Regions from separate parts of the Homo sapiens genome. Here regions 1, 2 and 4 are each linked to region 3. Evidence: fine-mapped expression QTL. A gene starts in region 3. Each other region holds a variant in brackets. All regions are shown on one strand. Distances are from middle to middle.

Region 1 (5,143 bases), 38 kb after region 3:
CTGTCTCTACTAAAAATACAAAAATTAGCCAGGCATGGTGGCACGCTCCTGTAATCCCAGCTACTCGGGATGCTGAGGCACGAGAATCGCTTGACCCTGGGGAGCGGAGGTTGCAGTGACCCGAGATCATGCCACTGCACTCCACCCTGGGTGACAGAGCAAGACTCTGTCTTAAAAAAAAAAAAAAAAAAAAAAAAGACTGAGAGGAGGGGCAGCCAGGGCCGGGCACCAACCCGAGCCATCTGGTGGCAATGGTGGGCTCTGACGACAGCATGGGGTTGCCCCTGAGATGCACCAAGGGAGGCAGCAGCAGAGGACGCCGGCTGCAGTAGCTACAACCAGCATTTGACCAGCAGTGCACAGTGGTCAGGTCAGGGCCATTCTCTAAAAGCATCCTCGCCCCGGAATGTGAGGGTGGGACCTTGTCTGGTCACCAAGCAAGCCAAGTTCCTTCATTCCCTGCCTTCCATCTGCACTTAGGCCCAGAGTGGCGGACAGCTGGGAAGGGTGACTTTGGAGCCACTGCTCTGATTCCCCCTGCCCCGCCTACTCTGACTGGAGCTAGACTATTCCTTCCTTTCCAATAGCCCGCTGATCCCTAGCTCCCTCTGATCTCTGCCCTCACGGGATGTAAATTCAGACTAAGGTGTGGATGACTGATACCAGCTTCATCTCTCTCCCGGCCAAGGGCATGTACATTCTGAAGCACTAAACTTGACATCCCAACTGTGATGATGGTGACTCACAGAGGTGAGGAGCTAAGTGAAGCGTCCCCTGGGATGGGACTCTAGAAGCTCTGACCCAGCACAGGCATGGAACACAAGATAATGCAACCATCGCAGCGGAAGACGAGGCCTCCTGTGCCACTCACACCCCTTGGGCTACATGTCTGCAGGTAAGCCCCATGGCTCTCTGAGCCTCGGTCTCTTCACACTCTCCCCTACCCAGCGGTGTGACTCCGGTCAGGTCCCTCAGACTCTCTGAGCTCCAGCTTGGACGGCCAGCTGGACACCGGCCTCCTGTGGTATCCTTCGGAAGACGAACTTCGAGGCACTGCTATCTCCCAGCTCCACAGCCCTGGCCATATGTTATTATAATGGCCTTGGCCAATAGGGGCGCAGGCTATTAGAATGAGTTAAGACCAGATTAATCTGCTTAAAAATATATGCCTGGTTTTTACGCTATGCATTCCCTCCTAACAGCACAGGCTCCTTCCAGGCCATTATCTCGTTTTATCGTTAATTCAATTCCATAAACATGTATTAAGTGTCTATAATGCGTGGAGCCCTGGTCTGGTAGCTGGGGTGGGGAGAGGGGGCTATGGGGGTGACGGAAGCCCTGGCCCCCAAGGTGCCTATAGTGAGGCGGGGGACCCACCTGACCCTCAACCCCTTGGACGTGAAGCAAGTGAGAGAGAGAGCTCGAGGAGGAAAATGTTCACCAGCCTAGAGGTTTGGAGGCGCTTCCTGGAGGGGGCCCACAAACACTAGGGGTGGAGACAGTAACATGTGACTCAGACAGAGGGCTACTAGGTGCCAGGTAGTGTTCTCAGCACTTTACAGACTCACTTAGTCCTCCCTATCCTTGGGGGCAGGCACTAATGTCACCCCCATTTTACAAATGAACAGAGTCTCAAGGAGGTAATGAAGGCCCCAAAGCACCCTAGGTGAAGCCACGAATCCAACCCCAGAGTCTGGGCTTTACCTCTGCACAACGTCCCCAGGGTCTTAGAAGTGTACCCAGGGCCATGGCAGGCACAAGGTATCTGGGAATGAAAGAAGGAACACTGAGCCTCCCCCATGGCCAGAAGTGAGTCTGGTCCCTTCAAGTGAGTCCTTGAGGGATGGCTGGATTTTGGTGAGCAGAGATGAAGTGAGGACAGGGGAGGGAGATCCTCCCAGCTAGGCCAGGAGCAGGACCACAGAGGCAGCTGGCCCTAGGTCTCAATCCTGGCTCCCTGTC[G/A]CTGGCCAGGTGATCACATGCTATTACTTAATATCTCTGAGCCTCAGTTTCCATCTCTACAGAAATGGTAGGTGGCACCTGCCTTGCTAGACCCAGGCGTGGGTGAAACGGGCTGGGATTGCACACAGGCCCTGAGGGTAGAGCTTACTGAGAGCAGAGGGGCACTGAACACCCAGGGAACACGCCGGTGCCTGCCGCCTGGTGCAGAGGCCTCACAGGACACCCTGGCGGGGGAGGCTGAGAGAAGCATGGCCGGCCGGCCACAGAGAGGCTGGCCTGGAAGGGGCAGGAGGCGGTGGACCATGCCCACTCTGCAAATGAGGAGACAGATAAGAGCGGAGCCGGCAACCCCTGCGGGACAGTCACTGGGCTTGTTTTCATGTTCTTCCCCAGAGATTTACAGACAGCAAGTGCTCCCCAAGGTCTCCACCAGGGGACAAATGCCAGGAGCCCCCGCCTGCCCTGTCAGCTGGGAGGGGACACTGCTAAGGGAACAGGGTAGGCTAGACAAGCAGGACGGGGGACTACAGAGCCTGTGAACTGCCACATGCCAGGATCCTCAACCTGTCACCCAGACCCCGCCAGGCCCCAGTGCCCTGGGCCTCCCTCCCCAGCTTGGGCCTCCGCGCTCTGGCCTGACCCACCTCCCCAGCCTCCTCCTTTACTGCTCCCCTTCTGCCCACCTCGCCCCCGCTGCCCCAGGCTCCTGAGCTTCCCCCTCCCCACATTCAGGAGTTCCCTACCCATCTACGGCTGCTGCACACCCCAACCGTGCCCGTGGCCCTCCACACCTCTGCCCACACTGTCCCCAATGCCAGCAACGCCCCTGCAACTCCCCACTGCCTAGAAAACCTGTATTCTTCCTTCCAGTCTCAGCTCAGACTTCTTTCCTCTCAAAGTGCCTCTGGACTGCCCTGTCTGGCTTTTCATGTCAGCTGCCAGTCGTCACCTCTCTGAGCCTTGCTGTCCTCGTCTGCAGAATAGGGGTGACACCAGCACCTCACAGTGTTGTGGTGAGGATGAAGTAAGAAAAACACAAACTGCCTGGGAAGCTGCTTCTGTCATCATCGCCATGAGGATGCTCTGAGGTTGTGTCCAAGGCTAACTCCACACTGGCCCTAATCTTACCCCTTCCAGCCCTGTCTCTCCAGTGCCCTGCACAGGGCCTGGTGCCCAGGCACTGCTGAATCAGAGGGCAGAACAGCCAACTGCCCGGAGCGGCCATGAAGTTTTCCCAGAAAAGGTGGACTTTGAAGGATGTGTAGGAGTTTATAAAGGGGCAGATGAGGAGGAAAAAATGAGGAGCAAACTCTAGGCAGAGGGAATTGTTTCTGTTGGACCTTGCAGGCCTTAACTGCCTGCCACACTGAGGAGTTTACATTTCATCCCAGGGGCAGTAGGAAATGGAAAGTGTTTAATTAGGGCAATGACAATCATATGTTGGCACATTCATCTAACACTTGCTAAGGGCCTACTATGTGCCAGGTCCTGGGGATCTAGTGGAAACAAGATGGACAGTCCCTGGGGCTACGGAGCCCATGTCCCACTGGGGGAGACAGACAGTGAGAGACTCTCACAAATAACCCATTGATGCCAGCTCTCTGGGGGGTTGTGCGGGGGGGAGTAAGTGGTGCTAAGAGACTGTCGACAATAACAGGAATCCAGCCAGGGGGGCGCGTGGGCTCAGAGGAAGCAGTGTTTCAGCCAGGCTAGACGAGGAAGGCATGCAGAGAACTTTCCAGGCAGAGCCCTGAGGAGGAAAGGAGTATGGCTCGTGGAAGTGGCAGCCCGCATGGCTGGAATACAGTGGAGAGGACTGGCGTGGCAATGGAGTGCAAGGAGACAGGGCCTGTGGTGGACATGAGCAGGGTGGATTTTAGCCCCCAGGCAATGGGTGGCCAGGCCAGGAGCCTGAGTCTGGAAAGTTGCAAATTCCTGGACAGAGAGTGACAAGCCAGCCCCAACAGGTGGATCTGTGGTTTAAGGAGGCCACTCTGAGAGCCCAGGAGGGCCCCGCAGAGCCTGGGCCGCCCGCCTGCCCGCCCTCTTTTCTCCCCAGCAGAGCAGCGGCAGGCAGATTGATGAGGCGGAGGCTCAATCTGTCTTGAGTTTAGCTCAGCTTCTGGCTGCATCTTGGATGACACTGGCTCATCAATACCCAAGAAAATACGGCCTGGAGGGAGGAACACTTAGGAACCGTATGGCTGGCCCAAGGCTGGCCCGGTGGCATCCAGGGATTGCTCCCCTCAGAAGGTGCACACGAGTGCAGGAATCGGGGGACAGGGGGGTGGCCAGGCTCCCAAACTGCGGCTCACACACAGCCTGCCTCCCCTCAAGGACCTGCACGCCAGCCCTCCCACCTGCGGCAGGCTCTGGGCAGGGGTCCCTGCGGGGCTGGCGACTGGGACCTGCAGTCAGGGAGGCAGAAGGGGGCTGCCTAAGTGCTTCATCTCCTGGCACCAGGCCCAGGCCCAAGGCCTTTCCCAAGGGGACTGGGGGGAAGGGCAGGAGGGGCACTGAATGGTGTGTCATAGAGTAGGTACCCCCTGTGCCTCAGTTTCCTCATAAGAGAAACGAGGACATTTTTGCCTCAGGGTGGTGTGGGGATCAAATCAGCCTCTAGAAGTGATCACCTTTCCTAAAGGACAAAAGGCTGTGAGGATTGGGCCCTCTCTCAGCAGCTGCAAACCAGAGGGGCTGACCTTGGTGCCCTGCAGGGGCCACACCACCATCATACACCCATGTTGTGGACAGGAGCAAGGTGCAGTTGAAGGGTATGGACGGGAATCATGCAGACCCCAGGCCTGGCCCTCCCAGCTGGGAAACCTGCTAGCGGTGCCTCAGTCCCCTCCCCTGCAAAACGGGGATGAAAACATCCCAAGCCCAGGGCTGTAGGGCTGAAAAGAGCAAGAAAAGTGCAATCCCGGGCACCCTGCAGGCACACAGGAGCTGCCGCGTGTCCTCCCAACTCTGATTTCCCCGTCTCTTCCACAGACCCCTGCACCAGAGCCCTGCATAGTCAAGACAGCCCTGTTCTCCTAGGCACATAGGTTACCCAGAAGCTGGGACTTGAAAGGGTCTCCTTCCTAGAAGGGGTAGTGAGACTCTAGGGTTCTGCATTTTAGAAGAACTTAGGGCAACAGTTATGCCAAAGGAATGAATCACAAACGGTAAAACTTCT
Region 2 (5,143 bases), 28 kb after region 3:
CCCAAACAGGGCTCCAGCCAGGCAGTGCGACAGGGCCAAGTTTCTCCTCACCACCCGAGCCACAAGGGGGCCCTGCTGATGCCAGCCCCAAGCAGGGCTCAGGGATGTAATCACGCTGCAGGGGGACCCAGGAGGCCCCGTCGCCATTTATTCAGCTCAGCTTTTCGCGAATGAGAAAGCAGCACGAGGAGCAGGGGGAGATTTTCAAGTCAAATAACAGTAAAAACAGCAGCAACTACAGCTGACACTCAGCAAGCACTCACTCCATGCCAGGTGCTCCATGCACTCCGGCACTGACATCTCTCCAAAGGAAGGTGCTATAGTTAAACCCACTCTACAGATGTGGCAACTGAGTTCAGAGAGGTGCAGTAACCCACCCAGAACCACACAGCAAACTGGAGAAGTCAGTTTAAACTTGGGCCCCAGAACCTGTGTCCCAACCCCTATGCACTACTGGTTCAGGCAGGCCTCAGTGCCCATACCCACAATGGATGGCCCAGCTGGGCGACCTTGGGCAAGGAGGCTGCCCATCTGGAAAATGGGCATGATCAGAGAGGGCTACGCTGTAGAACTGACCAGGGGGCTGAAAAAAGAAAAACAGGTGAGGAGCTACTTCCTGTCCCCTGCCAGGCCTGAGCAGAGGTCAGACTCCCTAGCTGGCTTAAGGGTTGGTCATATTCATGGAGCGGCAAGAATGAGGAGTGGGTCCTCATTTGCATTAGACGGTAAATCTAAGGACACTGGTTGTGCCTTCTTTTTACCAGCAACAAGAACTCATCAGAGCCCCTCCCAACCTTCTCCCATCCCCCACTGCCTCCTGAGCACCCTCCAAGGGCACAGCTGGGTGAGCCCCATGGCTGGGCTGGAGGGGCCAGACACTGGGGAGGGGCAGTTCACAGGGTCAGCCATGAAAGCCCATGATCCCTGAGCCTCGAGCTCAGCCCCCAGGAGCTTCCCCTTCATAACCTCTTCTCCCAACCCAGACCAGGCAGACTTAGGAAATACTGGCCAGAGAGAATCTTGAGCCACACAATTCAGACAAATGTGTGTGGACTCCCCTCTTGCCCCACAAACCACAACAGAAGGCCTCGGGTCGCATCCCCCCACCAGCTGGGGCCCCTGTCAGGCAGGGCCCAGCATTCCTGGCTGATGGTGAGGAGATGAGACCCAGGGTGGAAGGAACACATGGAGGGTTCACAGCAGGGCTCCTCTCTGGCACCCATGCAGAGCAGGCAAGGATGAACATGTGCTGGTTTCAGGGCTGGGCCTGGGGGTGCAAAGGTGACCGCTCAGCCCAGCTGCTCACATCTGTACAAAGTGGTGGGGCTTTTCAGCATCTGTCTTCTCAATAGACTCAAAGCAAACCCATGGGAGAGAAGGCATCACCACTGTCTCCATTTCTCACATGTCCTGAGAGGGCCAGTGACTTGCCCAAAGTCACACAGCTGATCAGGGCACAAATCCCAGGGCCCTGGTGCTCCTATCACCAGATTCCCTAGCCCGGAGGAGGGCTGAGCCCTCAGCCAGAGCCAAGGCTCAGCTTCCAGCGACTCATCCAAGAACTGAGATGGAGCAGGGGATGAGTGAGGACAGGCAGGGTTTGACATCAGCGGAGGTGCTCCTGGAGAGAGGGTAGGTGAAGGTGGGCACATGGGCGATTGACCCAAAGGGCCGACTGTTGTTGGGGCACCCATTGGGTGTGGAAGGCGACAGCAGCTGCTGCTGAGAAGTTATTCTAGGGAGACAGGAGTAGTGTCACTATGGTTTCAAGGAGGAAAACAAGGCACATGCCGGGGTGGTGACTCCAGGGCCGAAGCCTCCTTGGCTATCACTGAAGACCATCCTGCCCAGAACCCCGAAGCAGAAGGCCTGGGTCCCAGCCCTGCTGTCAAGTCTCGGCACTTCCCTGAGCCTGGGCTCTTCATCTTTGCACGGATGGTGCTGGGGGAGGGGGCAGTGGGACAGGCAACACTCTCACATCCCCTGTGGATAGCTGGGCACATAGTAGGCCTACCAGCTGGCATGGTCGCAAGTTTGCCCTAATTTCATCTATCTCTGCACTTGCCTTTTGTGGGGACACCCACCTAGATGACAAATTTGACCAAAGAAACCACAGCAGGGATGGGCCAGAGCCTGGAGGCCAGAGCAGCAGGCAGTCCCCTCCCCACCAGGCCTTCCCCAGGACAGTCCAGAACCAGCGTGCCCAATGCCCCGGCCTCCAGGAGCCATCCCTGCCTCAAGTCGGGGGAGGACGAGAGGGCCCAGGGCAGGGAGGGGCCGGGCACCACGGCCAGCACAGAGGAGGCACCCACTGGTGTGTCCTCAGCCTTAGAAGCTGTGGACCAACTGAAACAGAGAATAACCATGGCAGTGATGGGTGGGCTCCAAGGGTTCCCACACCCACCGCCTGCCCAGACCCCTGCTGTGGAGGGGAACGGAGACCTGGAGGGGTACCCCCAAAAATCTGGACTTGGCCCTGCAGGCTTCTCTGGCCTTTAGAAGGCACGGGAGGATGGGGGCAAGGGGGCGGTAGGCAGACAGCAAGAGCAACCAGTGAGCCCAGAGGACAATCACAGGGAGGACGGCGGCAAGGAGGTGAGGCCATGTCTGGCTGGGGGTGCAGGAACTGAGGGTCCTTCCCAGCCCCTCTCCCCACATCCAGCCCCCTGCTCTGGCACTCTCTCCATCTGCCTCTCACACAGTCCTTACCTTGCTCTCCCTCCCCATGGACTCTCTCTCCCATCTCCCCTCCCCACTCCTAGCCAACCTCCAATGCCCTGGGGCCTCAATTTCCCCCAGGACAAAGGGGCCTCAAGGCCTCATGAACAGAACATGCTGGCAGTGGTGGGTCACCCAGGAACCCCGAGGAACTGGAATGGGGGTGGAGGGGAATCACATGTCCCACTGGTCACCAGTCCCTCTTGCCTTTCTGTCCCAGCTAGCAGCTCTCCAACCTCTGTACCTCTCCCCGAACGCAGGCCCCCCTGCCCGCACCCCAACACTTCAAGACCTCCTAGGAGTGACCTGGCTGGGGTCTCTCTAGGTCAGGTAATTAATAGCAGGAGGGAAGTGCAATTAGCAGGTACCTGGAGTGGGGTCGGTAAGAGAGAATAGCAGAGGAGGAGGAAGTGGTGGGGATGGGGGAGGGGAAGAGAGAAGGGGGAGAAGGAAGCGGAGGG[G/A]AGGAGGGAGGAGGGAAAAGACAGAAAGGGGTAGAAGGGAAGCTTGGAGCGGGTGGAGGAGGAGGGGGAAAGGGAGCAGAGGAAGAAAGGAGAGGAGGGGAAGGAAGGGCGGGGAGGGGGAGGGGGAGGGGCGCGCTGAAATCACCCGCAACATCAAAGCCTTCCCCAGCCGCAAAGCAGTCACGTGCAGCCTGGTTCCTTTCGTTCCTTCGTTCCTTCGCTGGTAGAAGCCGCTGGGCCTGGGGCTGCTGAAGGAATTTTAAAACGAGGCAGATTGTCTGGAATATCAGGGGGTTAGGGGAATGCGGTTTTATCTCAAGGCAGGGTAAGGGGAGGCAGGTTTTGAAACCTGTTCCCCCAAGGAGAGCGGCAGGGCTTTGGGGCCTCTGCTAGGAGGCTGGGCAGGTGGCCAAGAGTGAAGACCACCCAGCTACTCCTGCCGGTGAGAGCTCGTGGCTGGGCCAGCCCAGATATCAACAGAAGCCAGAAATCTAGATTTGTATGTGAAAACTTCCCTGTTTTAATTTTGGCTCAAACTAAAAAAAAAAAGAAAAAAAGCGCCACATGGGCCAAATAGAGCATGTCCTGACTGGGGCCCAGAACCTCGGTCACCTCCCACTTCTGATGGTGGGCAGCAACGCTTTTGTTTCCCAGGGGGCACTGAGGCCCAGGAAGGGAAAGGCACTTGTTCAGGGACACACACAGTGAGTGCTCAAGGGGTGCGGGCTAAGACTTGGGGTCTCAGGACTCCCATGCCTGAAGCCTCCTGCGGTCAGCAGCCCAAGGGGCAGGGCTGTGGCTGCTGGGAAAGGGAAGTATAGGGAGGTTAGTGGCAGGGGAGGGTCTCAGAAAACCCCTCGTCCAGCCCAGGGCCAACACACTCAGCCCCACTCATCACCCTGATGACTAACCCAGGCCTGCCTCTCTGCCTTTGCCTCTGCTCAGCCCATCCTCCCTATCCACTCCTGACATTCCCTCCTCCCCCTGCCAAGACCTGGGCAGCTTCCCCTCCCCCGAGCCCCACCTGCAGAATGCACCATGCATTCAACCATTCATTCTTCTGTTGCTCCCCAAGGCCCTGAGTCAGCCTTAACCCCACCTTCAGAGGCCAGGACAGGGGAGGGTGTTTAGGATAGAGAGGTGTGGCCTCCAAGGAGGAAGCAGCTACCTCTGTAGGGTGGCGGTAGGGGAGTCTCCCCAAAGGAAGGTCCTAGGGCAGAGCATGGCATCTGCACTTACCAGGGTGGAGGTGTAAATGGCTGCTGGAAGCCAGAGGCAAGGCTGGGAGGAGGTGGATGTGGGGGTTCAGAAATGCGGAAGTTTATCTTGCGGGCACTAGGGAGCCGTTGGAGGTGTGTAAGCAGGAGAGAGGTCGGCTCAGATCTTCACTATGGGGCTGTCAGGACAAGGCGAGGATGGAGTCATTCATAGGTTCAACAAGTGTTTGCTGAGCACTTACTCTGTGCCACGCCCCAGGGAGACAGAGGAGAGCCAGACAGACAAGGCGTGCACCTTGGGGAGACAGACGTGACCACACAACCACCACCACAGGGTGAGGGGGCTATGGTGGGGGCTGGACTGGGTAAGGCACGTGGCCTGGTCCCTCCAAAGAGGAATCCACCTGCAAGGTGAGGACAGGAGGGGACACTGTTCCCAGCCAAGGAGGTGGCATGCACACAGGCCCAGAGGTGGAGAAAGCAGGGCTTCCTAAGTCAAAGTGATTCGACAGGCGGAGGTGTCTGCAAGAGCCATGCCAAAGGTGACAGAGCTCCCTGGCGTAGCTCCAGGGCAATGGAAACCTTTGGGAGGGGTCTGGGAGCAGCAAGGGAGGGAAGGTGGGAAGCAATGTTTGCAGGCTGGGGAGACCTGGCTGCGTCCCTTGGCTCCCTGAAGTCTGTCGTGGGGAACAGGGGACTCCCTTTCTCACTGCCAGCGGGCAAAACCCGAGCAGATGGGCAGCCATT
Region 3 (5,143 bases):
TTCTACTTCATCCCCCTACTCTGAGAATGCTGAAACTGGCTGGAAATTTCAACAGTTAGCCAAATGTCAAATGTCCTTTGAAGAACTTTAATAAAATCTGGATCCTCCAAAATCCCCTGCGTAGAAAGATCTTGGAACTCCTCTGAGCCAACATACACAGACCCAATCACATGTTATCCACACATTTTCCAAGTAGACAAATATTCTCTGAAACATTTTCTGATAACTTCTTTCACAAAGACAAAAAATATGTTAAGGTGCATTCCACCTAGGTCAGAATAATACACTTTCTGATCTGAAGCACAGAACAGCAAGTGGGATTTCAAAAAAGAGCGTACCCTGACCAACTTTTATGCTCTGTTGAAGGCAGAGGCTGGAAGCTTAAAGACAGGCTTTTAAAAGCCAGCTAAGGTACAGTCTGCATTTCTCAGAAAAGTTGCCTATGGCTAAAACAGAGCACAAAATGAGAGATAAAAAAGCAAAACCACAAACCCCTGTACCGTCTGACCCGGGAGTCCTCACTTAACAGATGAGAAAATTACCAGGGAAAGTAACTTGCCCTGGGCTGCAGTTTATTTGGCGTCAAAGCTGTAAGCAGATTCCTGGTCTCCCAGGTCGGAATTCAGTGTAGCTTCCCCATCCACCTAACTGCCACCCCACGGAAGATGCTGTATAAAACTCTTCACTCTTCACTGAGGCTGTTAACATAAGGGTCCAATTATCATTCAAAGATCAGCCTGTTAGATAATAGCTCGAAAATTCCATCCATTTTACAGCAGTTACCAGAGACATCTAATCTTCGAGGAAAAAAAAGCAAAAAGGAAAAGGGGGAAATCCTAATTTTGACCTGACCCCTAAGGTCAAACTAAAGGATTGAATACAGACCAGCAGACCGTATTGGTATCCGCAACCACAAAAACAGACAATAATCCCACCCACAAGCAGAGGAAGACGGCCGCTCCTCGGCACCGCCCCCCAACTCACTAAATTCCACTCCCATTCCGGCGTCCAGAGGACAGTGCACCTCCCGCCGTAGCCTGAGAGGGATCGGCCCGATTGGCCACGCTCCTTCAAACCACCACTTTCCCCCGAAAAAGGGACGAAAGCCTCAGGTCCCCAAACGAGCGCTCCCTCGCCCAGAGACCCCGGCTTGCACACCCCGCCCTGTTCCCCGCGGCGCGGGAGGAGAGGCCGCCCCACACAGGAAGTGTGTCCTGCGCCGGGACCTTGCGCCCAACCCGCCGGTACCTGCCCTCCGCCCCCAACAGGCGAGAAGCAGCCGCGTCCACATGGCTTCAGGTGTTCACATGGCAGTAAACGGGCCCCTGCTCTCCTGGGCGCCCCAGCGCGGCGCCCTCCCGCCCACATCCCGGCCCAGCCCCGCTGGCCTCGCCTCCAGCCCGTAGCCAAGAGGCGAGCGCGGCCGGTGCCCCCGGGGCTGCCAGGGGCCCCGAAGCAGGCGGCGCTGACTCCCGGACGCCGCCCGCTCACACCCGCCGCCTTTGCACCCAAGGCCTCGCGCGACCAGCAGGTAGACCTTCCCTCCGCACCCTCGGGCCAGCACCGGCACCCAAGCCCCGCCGGAACCCCGGGCCGGCCCAAGACACCTTAGCCCTCTGATGCCAGGCCTGGCCCGGGCCCCTGCCCGCACTCTTGGGTCGGGCCGGGCAGCAACACTCCCCTCAGCACCCCAAGCCCTGACTCGGAGTCCAGGAGGCTCCGCACTCCCAGGTTGGGTCCGGCCGGGACCTCTGCTCCCAGCCCCCGAGGCCGGACACCCCGGCCCGGCCCCAGTCCTTCAGGCCCAACCCTCTCCCTGCCCCTCAGGCCCGGGAGGCGGTTACCTGCAGGAGCCCCCCGCCCAGTCCCTCGGCCTCCGCCGGGGGCGGGCGGGGAGGGAGCGGTGGCGACGGCGGGCGGCGCTGCGCGGGGTGGGGGTGGGGGTGGCTCCGCCGCCTCCAGCTCGGGCGCCCGGGCCGGCGGCGGGGCGGGCCGGGGCCGCGGCCCCTCGAGGCTCGCTCCGGCCCGCGCGCTCGCTCCCCGGTCAGGCGCGCCTCAGGGCGGGCTCCCCTGGCGGAGGCCGCGGCCGCCTCGCAGGGGCCGAAAGCGGCTGGGCTCGGGGTTTTTTCTCTCCATTCTCCCAACACACAGGAAATAACAGAGCGTCAGGTGACGGCGCGCGGCCAATGGGGAGGCTCCGGGCCGCGGCGCGCGGGCGGGCGGGAGGGCGCGCGGCGGGGCGGGGCGCGCGGCGGGGGCGGGGCGCTGGGGGCGGGGCCGGGCGCGCGCGTGCCCACCCGCGTGCGGCGGCGTCGAGGCTGGCGCGCGCCGGGTAGGGATCGCGAAGACCCCCACCTCGCGGCAGGGTCGCACGGGGTTCTCCTCTGCGGCCGCTGGGCGCCGCGCGCCACCCGCCCAGTGCCATCTTGGCCTGCGCCTCAGGGCCGTCTTGGGGGTGGACGCGAGCCAACTTTCTGGGGGAGTTGGTGGCCCGGAATCTCTCTGGGATTTCTGGAGTTCCCTGGAGCCTCCAACTCCAGAATCGCGCCTCTTGCGGCCCGGGAGGTCCGCGGGCGAGGACCCGGTCTCCTCTCGGTGACCTGTTTAGTGGGGTCGGGCGTGGGGGCGGCTCCTGCCCGCCAAGAGCCCTCTGGGCCGGGGGCAGCCCAAGACCTAGCTGGTCCCGCCTGGGTCCCTGGCAGCCCCCGCCCATGGGTTCCAGGTGTCCGTGGAGGAACGACTTGGGTCCTCTCAGAGCCTCAGTTTCCACCGCGGAAAACGCGAGGAGGGAGGCCCACCTACCTCACCTGTAAAACGGACGCTCCAGCTGCCTTCTGCTGCGGCATTAAGAAGCTGCAATGCCAGGCTGACTGCGCCCAGGGTCCCGAATTAATTTGCCGATAAGGCGGAGGATTTGCGGTGCCAAGGCCTCAGCTTGTTCCCAGCCTTCCTTTGCAAACCTGATGTTTCTAAAGCAAAGGAAGGGCTTGACTTCTTTATAAAGAAAATCGCAATTGTAGAGCAACTAATATGTAGATGTTGGTGCCCCCACGGCCATCAAAAGTGACAAGGCCAGCAAGAGTAGGATGCGTTGAGAATTTGTGATCCTGCCCCTGACCTTTGACCTGGCCAAATTCTCCTCCCACTTTGGGCCTCAGTTTCCTGTGGGTGAGGAGAGTTTGGATTAGATGTCCCTAATGTTGGCTAAAATTGCCGATTCTAAATTAGGCTCCCATCTGTCCTAGATGTTAGGGGAGTATGTGGCTTCCTCTCCTGAAGCAACCCAACTTAAAAGTTGGGATTGGAAAAGTGCTTCCGGCAGCAGGTGGGGATTGTCAGGAACCAGGTGTGGTCTGGAACCCAGATTTCCATATATTTGAGGTACACAGCTTCCCGGGGCCTGCTTTTACTTTTTGACCTTTCACCCCACCTAGCCATTGCCTTTTCTCAGGCTACCCAAGGAGGGTCTCAGGGTCCCAGGCAGAGCCCCAGGTGGTCCTGGGCCCCTTGGCAGGAGCATGTACTTGGGGAAGGCAGTGATTTCTCCTGGCTTCTGTCCAATCTCACAAAGTGGGGGCTGGCTCCAAAGCAGGTCAGGACTATTCCTGGGGACTTGATTCCCCAACACCTCCTGCATGCCAGGCTCTTCCGGGGCAGAGCTGAACAAGCCACGGGGCCCTGCCCTCTGATTATTCCCATTGTTCTTCTGAGTTTCATTTTCAAATTCTCAGGCCTCAAGACTTTTAAAAGACCAGTACCTGGCTTCTCCTGGGATCAGGGCTGTAAAGGGAAAGCTGGAAGAGGCACTCAGCACAAATCAATGTTTTCTGGACAAAAATAGGAGAATGCAGGGCCTCCTGAAGACTGGTGTTGGGGGCACCCTTAATTTCTTGAGAGAATTCATGAAGAAAGATGAATCCTTTTTCCTTAGAGTCCCCTGCCCCATCATTCTTCCATTCTTTCCCTTCTTCATAACCTCACTTGCGTCTCAGATGCAGGGCCCGGGGGATGCTGACAATCTGTCGCAGAGCCTCATTCAAAAGGGAAAGAATAAAGAATGCAGACAGATAACTGGAGTCCAGGCGCCTGTCAGCTCCTGCCTCTTATAACCATGCAGCCCCCTCCCCGCCCTTTCAGACCCTGCCAGAACATTGCCCCAATGCCCTCCACCTGGAAACTTCCCCAGTCCTTGGACCAGGCCAGCTGGGCCTCTTTATCCCTGAAAGCCTGCCACTTTCTCTTTTGGTTCCATCTGGAAAAAGAACGTGTATGGGCATCATAGCCAACAGGAAGATGTGGGTTACTCTTGGACTGCGTGGCCTTGGACAAGTCACTTCCCCCTTTGGTTTCCTCAGCTATAAAATGGAGATAATATTATCTCACTGGGCCGGGTGTGGTGGCTCACACCTGTAATCCCAGCACTTTGGGAAGCCGAGGTGTGAGGATTGCTTGAGGCCAGGAGTTCAAGACCAACCTGCGCAACACAGTGAGACTCCCCCTCATCTCTATTTATTTAAAAGAAAAAAATTTTTTTTTAATTACCTCACTCATAAGGTGTTGTGGGACTCTCAAGAGAGCTGCATAGGCCAGGCACAGTGGCTTACGCCTGTAATCCCAGCACTTGGGAGGCCAAGGGGGGTGTATCACCTGAGGTCAGGAGTTCAAGACCACCCTGACCAACATGGTGAAACCCTGTCTCTACTAAAAATACAAAAATTAGCTGGGCGTGGTGGCGGGCGCCTGTAATCCCAGCTACTTGGGAGGCTGAGGCAGGAGAATCGCCTGAACCCTGGAGGCAAAGGTTGCAGTTAGCTGAGATTGTGCTGTTGCACTCCAGCCTGGGCGACAAGAGCAAAACTCCGTCTCAAAAAAAAAAAAAAAAAAAAAAAAAAAATTCAGTGCAGTACCAGGCACTGTTAACACTAGCTGCATGTTCTATGACATGGACACAAAAGGACATGAGTAGACTGAGGCTCAAACAGGTTAAGTTGCTGCCCAAGATTGCACAGTGGCAGGCACTCAATAACTGAGCGCCCCTTCCTCTGAAATCACATTAGTGTTTTCTGTTGTTCTCTCACTGTCTCAAATGCATGGATCCTGTTTTTCCTACCACACTCGGAGCTCTTTAAGGAAAGAACAGTAA
Region 4 (5,143 bases), 53 kb before region 3:
GGCCAACAGCCCTCCTAGAAATAGAAGAAAGAAAAACATTAGACACGCATCTCCTTGGTACAAATAAAATCAAGTCTAGATGATGGAGGGAATAAAGATGAATCAGAGGCCCAGATGAAGCTGACTGGTTTGAATTTCTATTTTTTTTTTTTGGTTTTTTGAGACAAGAGTCTCACTCTGTCACCCAGGCTGGAGTGCAATTGCACGATCTCAGCTCAATGCAACTTCTGCCTGCAGGGTTCAAGCAATTCTCTTGCCTCAGCCTCCCGAGTAGCTGGGACTACAGGCGCATGGCCACCAGGCTCGGCTAATTTTTTGTATTTTTAGTAGAGACAGGGTTTCACTGTGCTGGCCAGGCTGGTCTCGAACTCCTGACCTCGTGATCCGCCCACCTCGGCCTCCCAAAGTGCTGGAATTACAGGCATGAGCCACCACGCCTGACCTTGAATTTCATCTTTTATATTTTATCCTATCCACTTCTGAAAATGCACATATGCAGAGAAATGGCCTAAAGAGTGAGGCAAGAATCTGTAGTAGAATGAAAAGCAGCACTCTGAGTGCATACAAACCCAATACAGCAAAAACATGTATGTCTCATATATCTAATAATGCCTTATTAGACAAATGAGCCCCCAAACTCAACCAGATTAAAATATGGGGCTGTGTTATTACTGTCAATGAAAAACAGCAATTTTTCAATAAGCCTCCCAGTTATGCGGGGGAGGGGGTGTGGGGTAAGAAAAACCAAATCCTTTTTTTTTTTTTTTTTTTTTTTTTTTTGAGACAAGGTCTCACTCTTGCCCAGGCTGGAGTGTGCAGGGGCACAGTCGTAGTTCACTGCAGCATCAAACACCTGGCTTCAAATGATCCTCCTGCCTCGGCCTCTCAAAGTTTTGGGACTACAGGCATAAGCCACTACTTTCATTTCTCTGCTTTCATGTATTAGGGTGATCACTGAACTGCGGGTTTTAACACTGGCTGCTGATCGCCACTCCCCAACACTGAGAAACAGACCTGGCCAGAGAACTGCAGCCAATTCCTTATGTCCAAGTGCAAATTTTTGCAGCTTTACTATAATTGCCAACTACCTGTGATGACTGGTGACTCCAGGACACTCAGCCCATATGGGTTCCACACAAACTTTGGAGTCAACCTCTTCTTGGCATATGACTGTGTCTACAGCACCCCTCTCTCCACCACTCTCCTTCAATTCCCAGGTACAAAGGGCTAGACTTAAGCCAGTGAATAGCAGTGACTATTCTTCCAGATTATTTTGGGAGGTTTCCAAGAAGTTCCAGCACCTTTACCCGCCATGTGGTATTTGTATTTGCCAGTTTTTTAAATTCACAGTTATTACTGGCCATTACTATGAAAGAATTAGAAGCAATCATCTTGGAGGACAGCAAAAAACAGAGAGGAAAATAGGAATTCATCAAGCCTAGGACCCAGACTCTTTCAAAGTTATCTGACTGAGCCACCACTTTGTATTACCTATTATAATCCCTCTTAATCAATCAAGCTGATTTTTTCCCCTTTCACCTGGGCCTGTCTCCTCAGAGTCAGAGATGAAAGGGACAAGGCCAAATTGCTCCAAGTGACTTTAGAACCAATTACTTAAAAAAACAAGTTCCAAAATACATATAGGGTAAAGTGAGGTGTAATAGACAGTTTAGTTTAGTTACAATGGTTTATGAAGCTAGTTTCCTAGTTCCCCTGAAGGGGAGCTGAAAATGGAGTTGCCTGCAGGAAAGTCAACAACCTTTTTAAAGGTAAGTCAGATTTATCCTCTCCAATCCCTGGAGTGGCTCCCACCTCATTCTTTGGGAAACTGGTCTCAAAGGCCCCTGCTCCCACCCCCTTGACCTCTCTGAGCTCCTCCCCTATCACTCTCTGCTCTAGCCCCACAGTTGCCTTGTTCCTGGAACAGGCCTACCACATATCTACATAGGAACTCTGTTCTCACCTGCACGTTCTTCTCCCAGAGCCAGATAGCTTGCTCTCCTTCCAGTCTTTGGGCAAGTGTCACTCATTCCCTGGTCATTCTAGTAAAAACAGCCAGCTCCACACCTTTTCCCTGGCTGTAACTCCCTCCCCTGTTTTATCCCCTGCCTGGCCCCATACTTACTCCAAACAGACACATATATGCTACTTGTTTACTGTCTGTCTCTCCTCTGACTAAAATGTAAACTCCTTAAAGGGCAGAAACTGACTGTTCCTTGCTGTAATCCTCACGTCATCACACCGGAGTCTGTGTGAATGATTAAATGGTGTAAGAACTAGGCCTTAGAGAACTAGGCTAGAACTCACATATTCAGAGATGGTGCTGTGGGAGTGACATGAGAGAATTATAGAAAGTGAAAATAGAATATGATCAACCTAAAAGCAGAGCTGGAGGATGCTGAAGACCTTGCCTGTAAAATCCCATGAGTCCGGTTCTAAGGGAAAGACCCAGCTTGAGTCCACATGAGAACTGAGGAAAGACTTCAGAAAGTAAATATTGATTAGAGCAGAAGATGGCCAGTAACCCCAAATTCTAAAAGCTTGACCCATATCTTGAAATATCGTAAGTCTAAAACAGCTAGACAAGGGTCTACTTCCTTAAGCTTGATTATATAGTCATGTGACCCAAAACAATCGCTAAACATTCATGTGCAAATAATGTCAGAATCTAAAGGAAACTTCTCATCCTATTCAAAATGCCTCTGTTGCTTTGTTCCAGTGAATCTGCAGGGCAGTAGGTAATAGCTATTCAAATGGTGATGATGCTGCTTGACACTGTTCCAGCACTTCACATACACTAACTCATTTAATCCTCACAACACTAGCACGCTCCTTTTACAGATGAGGAAACAGAAGCAGAGTTCACAAAGCTCCTAGGCAGCAGGGCTGGGGGCAGGACATGTTTTTAACATTACATTGCCCAGAGGGTCTTCCACATGGTCAGTAAAAAATACCAGTTGTCCTGTCAGTTTGGCCTTGAAAGTGGGTAGCCACCCACAATAAATCTGTCCCTTCACTGCCACCCTCT[T/C]ATAAGGACCTCCATACTGTTCCAGCTGGCTCTTCACCCGCTCCCCATCATTCTTAGAACTATCAAGAGCAATTCTGTCTACATGAGTATTAATTTTTTCCCCTTGTGATGTGCTCCTGCTCTACTCCTCAGTGCCAGTGGCCTTCTCTAGATAAAACAAGGCTGAATGGGGGCTAAATTGAACAAAAACATTAAAGCTAGCAGTTTAAACTAATGAAAAGCCTTCTCAAGAGATATTCTCTATAAAAAGCTATGTTACATGTTGTTTAATTAATCCTTCTGGAAATAAAATCAGGCTTCTGAAGATCTGAGTGTATAAACAATGTTGCCACTTGCTCCATATTCTTCCTAAATAGGAGCCACCAAGAGCTAAAGGCCACTTTAAACATCAGGGTATCAGGCCTGAGGCTGCCCTATCTCCAGACAGGGAAAACAGATACAGGAAGGACTCCTTCTTAGGTCTGTTCTCAGCCTTCCCCTGCAGATTCCCTGTCCTGTATGATACCCCTTTCCCTATTGTTATGGTTCTACTTTATGAAAAAGAAAAAAAAAAAATCCAAGGCCAAATACCTCCTGCAGGGTTCCAGTCATGCTAAATATTCTTAGTATACATGAAGCACCTGAGTAGGAGAAGGTGGTTGCCCAGGTTTATCTTTTTTAGGAATGCCAAGTAAACCAATTAAGAAAACCAACTAGCATATACCAACGACAGAAAATGTAAACCTGGAGCTATAAAATAAGTAATAGGCTGGGTGTGGTGGCTCACACCTGTAATCCCAGTGTTTTGGGAGGCTGAGGTGTGAGGATCGCTTGAGGTCAGGAGTTCAAGACCAGCCTGGGTTAAAAAAAATTTTAAATGCACAGTGTCATGAGGTGTGCCTACAGTCCCAGCTGCTCAAGAGGCTGAGGTAGGACGATTGCTTGAACTCAGGAGTTCGAGGCTGCAACGAGCTATGAATGTGCCAATGTGCTCCACCCTGGGTGACAGTAACCCTGTCTCAAAAAAAAAAAAAAAAAAAAAAAAAAGCTAATAGAGATAATTCCAATTTTATCCCATCATCTTAAAAAAAGCATCAGTGTAGTCAGTTTTAAAGCACTGTGATTAGTAATAATAAGTGCCTGAATTCCTTTGTTTAAATGAATACAAATAGTAAGGAAAATCTGATACCTCAAAGGAATAAGTCACCTAAGGAACTTGCATACACACTCTAAAAAAGAGGCTGGGCACAGTGGCTCACCCCTGTAATCCCTGAACTTTGGGAGGTCAAGGCGGGCAGATCACTTGGGCTCAGGAGTTCGAGACCAGCCTGGGCAACATGGCGAAACCCTATCTTTATAAAAAATACAAAAATTAGCCAGGCATGGTGATGCGTGCCTGTAGTCCCAGCACCTCGGGGGGCTGAGGCAGGAGGATCGCCTGAGCCTCGGAGGCAGAGGTTGCAGTGAGCAGAGATCGCGCCACTGCCCTCCAGCCTGGGCAACAAAGCGAGATTCCGTCTCAATAAATAAATAAAAAAGAGGCCTACCGATGTACTTCCCATCCATAATGACTCTCCCTTTCCTGTTTTTCTCCTATATTCCTAACTTTCTGAACAGTTTCAGAAGGGCTGTGGAGGTGTATTAGTGAGGTCCAGAACTCTGTGCCTAAACATTCCAGAGTCCATGTGCCGACCTCACAAACTCACTCATAACCAGCTGCAGACTTGTTCTCCCCATCCTATTAGAGGGCTGATGACCTTGCCCTCTTATAGAAAACCAACATTGGCTTTCTCTGTCCTTCTTCCTCCATATGTCCAACAACATCCCACTTCCCAATCCATTCTCTTTTTTGGAAAGAGAGTCTCACTCTGTTGCCCAGGCTGGAGTGCAGTGGCATGACCACAGGCTCACTGCGGCCTCAACTCCCAGCTCAGGCAATCCTCCTGCCTCAGCCTCCCAAGTAGCTGGGACCACAGGCATGGGACCCCTGGCTAATTTTTAAAAAATAATTGGGACTATGGCTAATTTTTATAATTTCTTAAAAATAGAGACAGAGTCTCACTGTGCTGTCCAGGCTGGTCTCAAACTCCTGGGCTCAAGCCATCCTGCTGTTTCAACCTCCCAAAGTGCTAGAAT

What was found. PIP is the estimated chance that this variant, and not a neighbour inherited with it, causes the effect.
Region 1: its variant is the best candidate, but not a certain one, in a credible set for the expression of TCF20 in whole blood (TOPMed, PIP 0.89).
Region 2: its variant is the best candidate, but not a certain one, in a credible set for the expression of TCF20 in whole blood (TOPMed, PIP 0.61).
Region 4: its variant is the best candidate, but not a certain one, in a credible set for the expression of TCF20 in whole blood (TOPMed, PIP 0.66).

Annotation. Positions count from the first base shown.
Region 1 is chr22:42,306,866-42,312,008 of GRCh38, forward strand. It overlaps a transcript of TCF20 not described here. Among named protein-coding and RNA genes, the nearest start is that of TCF20, 39 kb to the left of the region's middle. RefSeq lists an enhancer at 3,557-4,263. The variant G/A (reference allele first, on the strand shown) is at 1,963.
Region 2 is chr22:42,296,673-42,301,815 of GRCh38, forward strand. It overlaps a transcript of TCF20 not described here. Among named protein-coding and RNA genes, the nearest start is that of TCF20, 29 kb to the left of the region's middle. RefSeq lists enhancers at 1,089-1,734, 3,108-3,786, 3,646-3,875, 3,787-4,465, 4,466-5,143 and 2 more. The variant G/A (reference allele first, on the strand shown) is at 3,180.
Region 3 is chr22:42,268,495-42,273,637 of GRCh38, forward strand. TCF20 (transcription factor 20) reads right to left here and starts at 2,159. Exons shown (of 6, transcript NM_001378418.1): 1 at 1,845-2,159. It also overlaps the pseudogene OGFRP1. RefSeq lists an enhancer at 913-972 and silencers at 1,303-1,542, 1,683-1,742, 1,803-1,952, 2,093-2,252.
Region 4 is chr22:42,215,328-42,220,470 of GRCh38, forward strand. TCF20 (transcription factor 20) reads right to left here. Exons shown (of 6, transcript NM_001378418.1): 2 at 1-14. Among named protein-coding and RNA genes, the nearest start is that of TCF20, 53 kb to the right of the region's middle. RefSeq lists enhancers at 1-155, 2,426-3,014. The variant T/C (reference allele first, on the strand shown) is at 3,029.